2 linked regions of the Homo sapiens genome follow. The gene in region 2 interacts genetically with the main gene of each other region. Each region holds a gene or a part of one and is shown on either strand. Other genes may lie near its edges.

What was found. A genetic interaction does not mean that the proteins touch.
Region 1: changes in DRG2 (region 2) and GBF1 together harm fitness more than expected from each alone (negative genetic interaction), as found in Homo sapiens cells (one study listed by BioGRID).

What each region holds. Positions count from the first base shown.
Region 1 is NC_000010.11:102,374,532-102,378,031, forward strand, and holds part of GBF1 (Golgi-specific brefeldin A-resistance guanine nucleotide exchange factor 1), read left to right. Parts: intron 1-827; coding exon 828-1,053; intron 1,054-1,740; coding exon 1,741-1,901; intron 1,902-2,028; coding exon 2,029-2,269; intron 2,270-2,403; coding exon 2,404-2,609; intron 2,610-3,500. UniProt on the Homo sapiens protein: Guanine-nucleotide exchange factor (GEF) for members of the Arf family of small GTPases involved in trafficking in the early secretory pathway; its GEF activity initiates the coating of nascent vesicles via the localized generation of activated ARFs through replacement of GDP with GTP.
Region 2 is NC_000017.11:18,097,948-18,101,447, forward strand, and holds part of DRG2 (developmentally-regulated GTP-binding protein 2), read left to right. Parts: intron 1-322; coding exon 323-412; intron 413-1,069; coding exon 1,070-1,130; intron 1,131-1,685; coding exon 1,686-1,776; intron 1,777-2,415; coding exon 2,416-2,488; intron 2,489-2,621; coding exon 2,622-2,712; intron 2,713-3,500. UniProt on the Homo sapiens protein: Catalyzes the conversion of GTP to GDP through hydrolysis of the gamma-phosphate bond in GTP. When hydroxylated at C-3 of 'Lys-21' by JMJD7, may bind to RNA and play a role in translation.

The sequences.
Region 1 (3,500 bases), on a different chromosome or scaffold from region 2:
CTATGATCATACCACTGCACTCCAGCCTGGGTGACAGAGCAAAACCTGTCTCTAAAAAAAGAAAAAGGCAACATGAGGGATACTGTTGTGGTGGAACTGTTCAGTATGTTGTTTTGTGGTGGATACCCAAACCTACACAGGTAATAAAATTGTATAGAAATTAATACACACAAAAATGCAAGTAAAACAGGAAATCTGAATAAGATCAGATAGTATCTTGATTATGATATTATACTATAGTTTTGCATAATGTTACCATTGGGATAAACTGGGCAAAGTGTATAAGGGACCTTTTTGTATTATTTCTTTACAACTGCATATGAGCCTATAATTTTCTCAATAAAAATTTGTATTTGAGGCTGGGTGCAGTGGCTCATGCCTATAATCCCAGCACTTCAGGAGGCTGAGACGGGAAGATCGCTTGAGCCTGGGAGTTCAAGACCAGCCTGGGCAACATAGCGAGACCCCATCTTTCCAAAAAAGAAAAAAAAAATTAGCCAGGTGTGGTCACATGCACCTGTAGTCCCAGCTACTCCAGAGACTGAGGCAGGAGGATCACTTGAGCCCAGGAGTTTCAGGTTGCAGTGAGCTGTGATTGTGCTACTGTGCTCCAGCCTGGGAGACAGACCAAGACCCTGTCTCAAATAATATAATTAATATATTTCTATTTGAAAAAAAAAAAAAAGACCAGAGCAGTATCCTAAATTGGGTCCTAGCCAAACTGTCTTCACTGGCCTAAGGAGACTGGTGGGAAAGAAAACTAGACAGGAAGCTGTGTGCCCACACAGCTCCCCGCTTCCCCGCTCCCTGCCCTAACCCCACTCCAGGTGCTGCTCTCCCTGCGCATTTTGCTACTGATGAAGCCCAGTGTGCTATCCCGAGTCAGCCACCAGGTTGCGTATGGGCTCCATGAACTCCTGAAGACCAATGCAGCCAACATCCACTCAGGTGATGACTGGGCCACACTCTTCACACTGCTGGAGTGCATCGGCTCAGGTGTGAAGCCTCCAGCTGCTCTGCAGGCCACAGCCAGGGCAGATGCACCTGATGCCGGTAAGCCCTTTCCCAGGGAGACTCAGGCTGGCAGATAAACAGTTACACCCCAGGAGTTGGGACAGGAAAACAAAACACAGGTTACTGTGTTCAGCAGATTAAACAGCCCTGGCTCCTGCCATCACTTCCAGAGCTTCCAGTGCCCGCTGGCTAGTACCCATAAGTTAAATAGCATGAGGGCAAATAAGCAATGCAGACGGCTGTGAAGCCAGGCTTCCTACTGTCCTGAGGACTGATTTGTCCTGAGGACTGTTTCCCAGTTTCTGTTTCTGAGCTGTCCCGAGGACTGTTTTCCCAGAATTCTGGGAAAATAGAATTCTGTGAGCAGACTTTATATCACTAAATCGATACATCACTAAATCCCAGAAACTGGGAAAACAGTCCTCAGGACAGTGGAAAGCCTGGCTTCATAGCCTTCTGCATTGCTTATTTGTCCTTGCCACCACTCCCTAGAGTGGTGCTACAGCTGCCACTAGATGCCATCAGGAACCCAGATTAGCCTGCCACCTTATTTGGTCAACAGAGAAACTGTTCCGGCCATCCTTTGGCCCTCTGGTGACAGAAATTAAACTATGCCAGAGAGAGGGGAGGCCAGGCCTCAGCATCTTTTTTCTGAGAGCCTGATTTATCCCTCATCCCAGTGCCCCATCCCCACCCTGACTCTGCCCTTCTCCCTGCCTACCATAGGGGCCCAGTCAGATAGTGAGCTCCCATCCTACCATCAGAATGACGTGAGCCTGGATCGAGGGTACACTTCCGACTCAGAGGTCTACACTGACCATGGCAGGCCGGGCAAGATACACCGATCAGCCACAGATGCCGATGTGGTCAACAGTGGTTGGTTAGTGGTGAGTGACAATATGGGCAGCAATTGAGTCTCTCCTGCTTGACCTGTGGGAAGAATTCCTGGTCCTCTGCAAGGACATTCACACAGGGGCCAAGCCTGTGTCCCCAGCTCCTCTGTGTACTTTACAGGTTGGGAAGGATGACGTTGATAACTCCAAGCCAGGGCCCAGCCGCCCAGGCCCTTCACCCCTGATCAATCAATACAGCCTAACAGTGGGACTGGATTTGGGGCCACACGACACTAAGTCTCTGCTTAAGTGTGTGGAATCGCTGTCCTTCATTGTGCGTGATGCTGCCCACATCACACCTGACAACTTTGAGCTCTGCGTCAAGACTCTCCGGATCTTTGTGGAGGCCAGTCTGAATGGCGGTGGGTCAGCTGATGAGGGGGCAGCTGGGGAGTAGCCATGCAATTATGCAGGGGAGAGGCTGAGAGGGGAGAAAAGGCAGGGTATCTATGCCTATATAGACACAGAAATGTGACCTGAGTCTGGCTCTGCTCAGGATGCAAGTCCCAGGAGAAACGTGGCAAGAGTCACAAATATGACAGCAAAGGGAACCGCTTCAAGAAGAAATCCAAAGAGGGATCAATGCTTCGCCGGCCTCGAACCTCCAGCCAACATGCCTCTCGGGGCGGGCAGAGTGATGATGATGAGGACGAAGGCGTGCCTGCCAGCTACCATACGGTGTCTTTACAGGTCAGTCAGGACGTAAGTATGGCACCCTTTACTTCCTCTCCTCCCCTGCACCTGATACTGGGAGCCTGGGGCGGCCAGGGAAAGCCAGGGCTGAGGGGAAGGGCCCATGTGTGCCAGCCCAGGCCCTGGACCACCATCTTCACAATATTCCCTTACCCAAAACCTTACCTGTAAGTCTTTATTTGCTTAAATTTATTTATTTATTTATTTTTATTTTTATTTATTTATTTATTTATTTATTTTTTGAGATGTAGTCTCTCTGTCACCCAGGCTGGAGTGCAGTGGCGTGATCTCGGCTCACTGCAACCTCCACCTCCCGGGTTCAAGCGATTCTCCTGCCTCAGCCTTCCAAGTAGCTAGGACTACAGGCGCGTGCCACCATGCCTGGCTAATTTTTTGTATTTTTAGTAGAAACGGGGTTTCACCATGTTGGCCAGGATGGCCTTGATCTCCTGACCTCGTGATCCGCCTGCCTCGGCCTCTCAAAGTGCTAGGATTACAGGCATGAGCCACCACACCTGGCCTTTAAATTTATTTTTAAACTAAGATTTACTTATTTTTTGAGTAGGTTCAAAATATACAAAAGGGTAAACTGATAAAACTAAGTTTCCAATCCATTCCTGTCCCCAGCTTCTGAGTTCCCCTCACTAGAGGCAGCCACTGTCACCAGTTTCTTGTCTATCCTTCCAGAGTTACCCTGTGTCTATTCAAAGGCATATAAAATTAATTATGTGAGCAGAGTTTATATCACTAAATTGATGGAGAACCAATTGCCTTAAATAGAATAACCATACAAAAATGACAAAAGTGGCTGGGCTTGGTGGCTCCTGCCTGTAATCCCAGCACTTTGGGAGGCCGAGGCGGGTGGATCATGAGGTCAGGAGATGGAGACCACCCTGGCTA
Region 2 (3,500 bases):
AGAGGGCCTGGAGGATTGTGTGGGGTTAGGAGAGGCTCCTGATGTATATGGGGAACCCCATCAGAATCCAGATCCCTGCCTCTACCTGAGACAGTCCTGAGGCCTCCAAGGAACAGATGGGCCTCTGGTGTCTGACCCATCCAGGACAGGGCCAGAGGTGAGCCCTCTGGCTGGGAGGTCTCTTCACAGCCACCTAGGTCACCAAGCCGAGGGTGAGAGGGTCTCCTCCTGCTGCCTGCACCTGCAGGCCCCCAGCCCCTGGGGCCTCTCCCAGAAGGCCAGGGACAAGGCTCCTCAGTGCAATGATCTCCTTTTCTCCTAGTCCACATTCTTGAGTCTGATGACCTCCACGGCCAGCGAGGCAGCGTCCTATGAGTTCACCACTCTGACGTGTATTCCTGGGGTCATTGAAGTAAGTGGGTGTGCTGGGCCCAGAAGGAGAAGGGGCGCATGCTTGTGTTTGGACTTGTGCCTGTGCCCACCCTGTGTGTGAGTCTGGGTGGATGTCCCCATGTCAGGACAGGCTCTGGACTGAGCTGCTTTGCCCTCCAGCACTGACACTTCTGGGGATCCTAGCTGCTGGACCCCAGAGATGCCTGGTGGGGCCTGGAACTAGGAGGTCAGGCCAGCATGTGGCTACTTTGCCTGGCGCCCCCTGTGCTCTCCTCCCCAACACCACCACAGCTCTGGTCACTAATTGCTGCTTGGCTGGATCCTTCTGCCTCCCCATGAAGCTTCACTGCCTTGGGCTGTGTTTGCTTTGGGCAGCTGAGTGGTATGGCCTTAAGTTCCCATGGTGAAACAATTTATTTGTAAAGTGCTGGTATCATCAGTGATGAGTGTTGTGGGATTGGAAGATCTTGAGCCCTCCCTAGGCGGCTACTCAGCTCATAGGCTGTGGTCTGCACTGGGCTGGGGTGGTGACAAGGCTCAGACTTGGCCACAGGTTGGCATCTGGGTTTCCCTCAGCCCCTGAGCCCCGGGGCCATTCCAGATGTCCCAGATCCAGACAGGACCTTTCCAGTGGAGGCCCAGCCTTGCCTTACCTTTCTTCTCTTCTGCATCCTAGTACAAAGGTGCCAACATCCAGCTCCTGGACCTTCCTGGAATCATTGAAGGCGCAGCCCAAGGTGGGAGGCAGGGCAGGTGTGTGGGAAGCAGACTGGAGCTCTGTTACTGATCGTTGAAATTGGGTGTGGCTGTCATGGAGATCACTCTGGATCCCTGGTCCATTATCCCGCTTTCCAGAAAAGACAGGTTCCAGTTCAAATCCTTGGCACCAAACTAGCCTTGTGATCTTGGGCAAGTGATTGGGTATCTCTAAGCCAAGCCTCAGTTTCCTCAGCTGTAGAATGGGCATAATAATACATAATTTACAGCATAGTTTTGAGGATTAAGTGAGGAAATGTTCAGGAAGCATTTAGCCTGGGCCCTGCCACATGGTAGGGGTGGGCGTAGGACAGCCGTTATTATCCTGTTACTCCTTTTATGATGGTGGTGTCGGATTTTCTTCTGAAATAAGTCTCCGTCAGTAAAACATGTGGATTAAAGAAAAATGCCAAGCTTGTGCTAGTATGTGGCAGAGGCTGTGGTAGGTCTGTAAAGGACAGGAGTCCAGGGCGCCGTGGGCTGGGTAGCAGTCACATGGGTCCACATATGTAACTGCATCCCTCACACCCATCCAGGAAAAGGCCGTGGCCGGCAGGTGATCGCTGTGGCGCGCACGGCTGACGTCATCATCATGATGCTGGATGCCACCAAGGGAGAGGTGCAGAGGTCCGCAGGGTGGGGCATGGGGCAGGCTCACATGTCTGGGGAGGGCCAATGTGTCCCTGAGCTCGTACTAGGCGGCCTGTGGGTGTTTGGCTCTCTCACACGTGAGAGTAGTGGTAGGACTTGTCACAGACTAAACCCAACACCACCCAGCCTATGGCGTCTTCTCCTCAAGGCTTGTGTCCAGCCAGCACAGAGGTATCTTGGGACTGGGGGCCGAGGGGCTTGGCCTGGCCCTGCTTCCTGTTCAGAGGCACAGGTGCCTCATCACTGCCCAGAACCTGCCAGGAGCCCAGCCCCAGGCACAGAAGCATTGTTCATCCACATCCTGGCAGAGGGGTACACCAGGCCTGCCTCCTCGGGACCAGAAGGAGTACCCTCATGTGGTCACCTCGCGGGGGCTCCACCACTTGCCTGTGCATGCCGACCGTAAACCGGGCCAGTCCCCTCTGGGACTGTGGCAGAGTTTAGAAGTTCCCTGCAGCTCTAGGGCATTGGGAAGGAGTGTTCTCTGGGTTGCTGGGGAAGGGGGTGGAGGAGAGAGTCAGTCTCTGGGTGGGCAGTGACATCCTGCGTAACAGGGAAGCTGTGCATCTGGCTCTGTGGACAGCCTGTGAGGGGCTTAAGGGGTACTCTTCCTAGGTCTCTGCTGGAGAAGGAGCTGGAGTCTGTGGGCATCCGCCTCAACAAGCACAAGCCTAACATCTACTTCAAGGTGAGGCACCTCTCTGGCCTTCAGGCCAGGGGTGTGGCAGTTTTGAGACTGCATTGGCTGGCGGCTGAGGCTGTGGGACCATTGCTGTGACCCCTCGGTCAGCAGTTCTCCCCATCCCTTTCTCCTCTTTCAGCCCAAGAAAGGTGGTGGCATCTCCTTTAACTCGACAGTCACGCTGACCCAGTGCTCGGAAAAGCTGGTGCAGCTCATCCTGCACGAATACAGTATCCTTCCCTGAAAGACACGTGAAGGAGGGCAGCCACCACCGTCAGCGCAGCGGGGGGACTGACTAAGACAGGAGGCCTCATGGAGCAGGGTGGCAGCAGGTCACCCCCACTGCCCCTGCTGTCCATTCAAGTAGCCTCTGGGCAAGCTCCAGACTGCCAGGTCTGCAGCCGTGCACTTGACAATGGCTTCCTGGCTCCTCACCAAGTACTGGGCACTGTGGTAGCCAGATGACATCCGGAAGAAAAAGATGTCATGGGAAACAGCCTCTGAGGACGGGGGGTTCCTAGCCTGGAGAAGCCCCAGGGAGAGCTGGGGAATGGGTGGTGCCTCTAAAGTAGTGTCGGGGGCTGGTTGTGTTCTGGGGCCCTGGGGATAGGGCAGGGCCTTGGGCAGAGTTATGCCTGGCATATAGAGAACTCTTAGAGTCAGCTGTGAGCCCCTCGTTGCCAGAGGTGTGCAAGCAGAGGCAGGATGGCCCCCAGTGGAGTCCTGCATGGAAGAAGCTGGGTTCGACCAGCTTTCAGATGCTCCTGGTGCTAAAACCCAGGCTTCCCCTGAGGGGCTTTGGGGATTCTAGCAGGTACGTTTTTCTCCCTGCCTAGCTGTCAAGATTAAAACTCTGTGTTGATTGAAACTTTTATATATTGTGGTCCCTCTGGGGAAGAGAACAGAGGGCTTCCAAAGCATTACAATCTTGCAAAACCTCACAAGCAGATACCGCCACGGTCCCACACGGCCAGCATATTTCCTGCTTGGCTTTTTGGGGCCCTCCGCTGATGGGGGA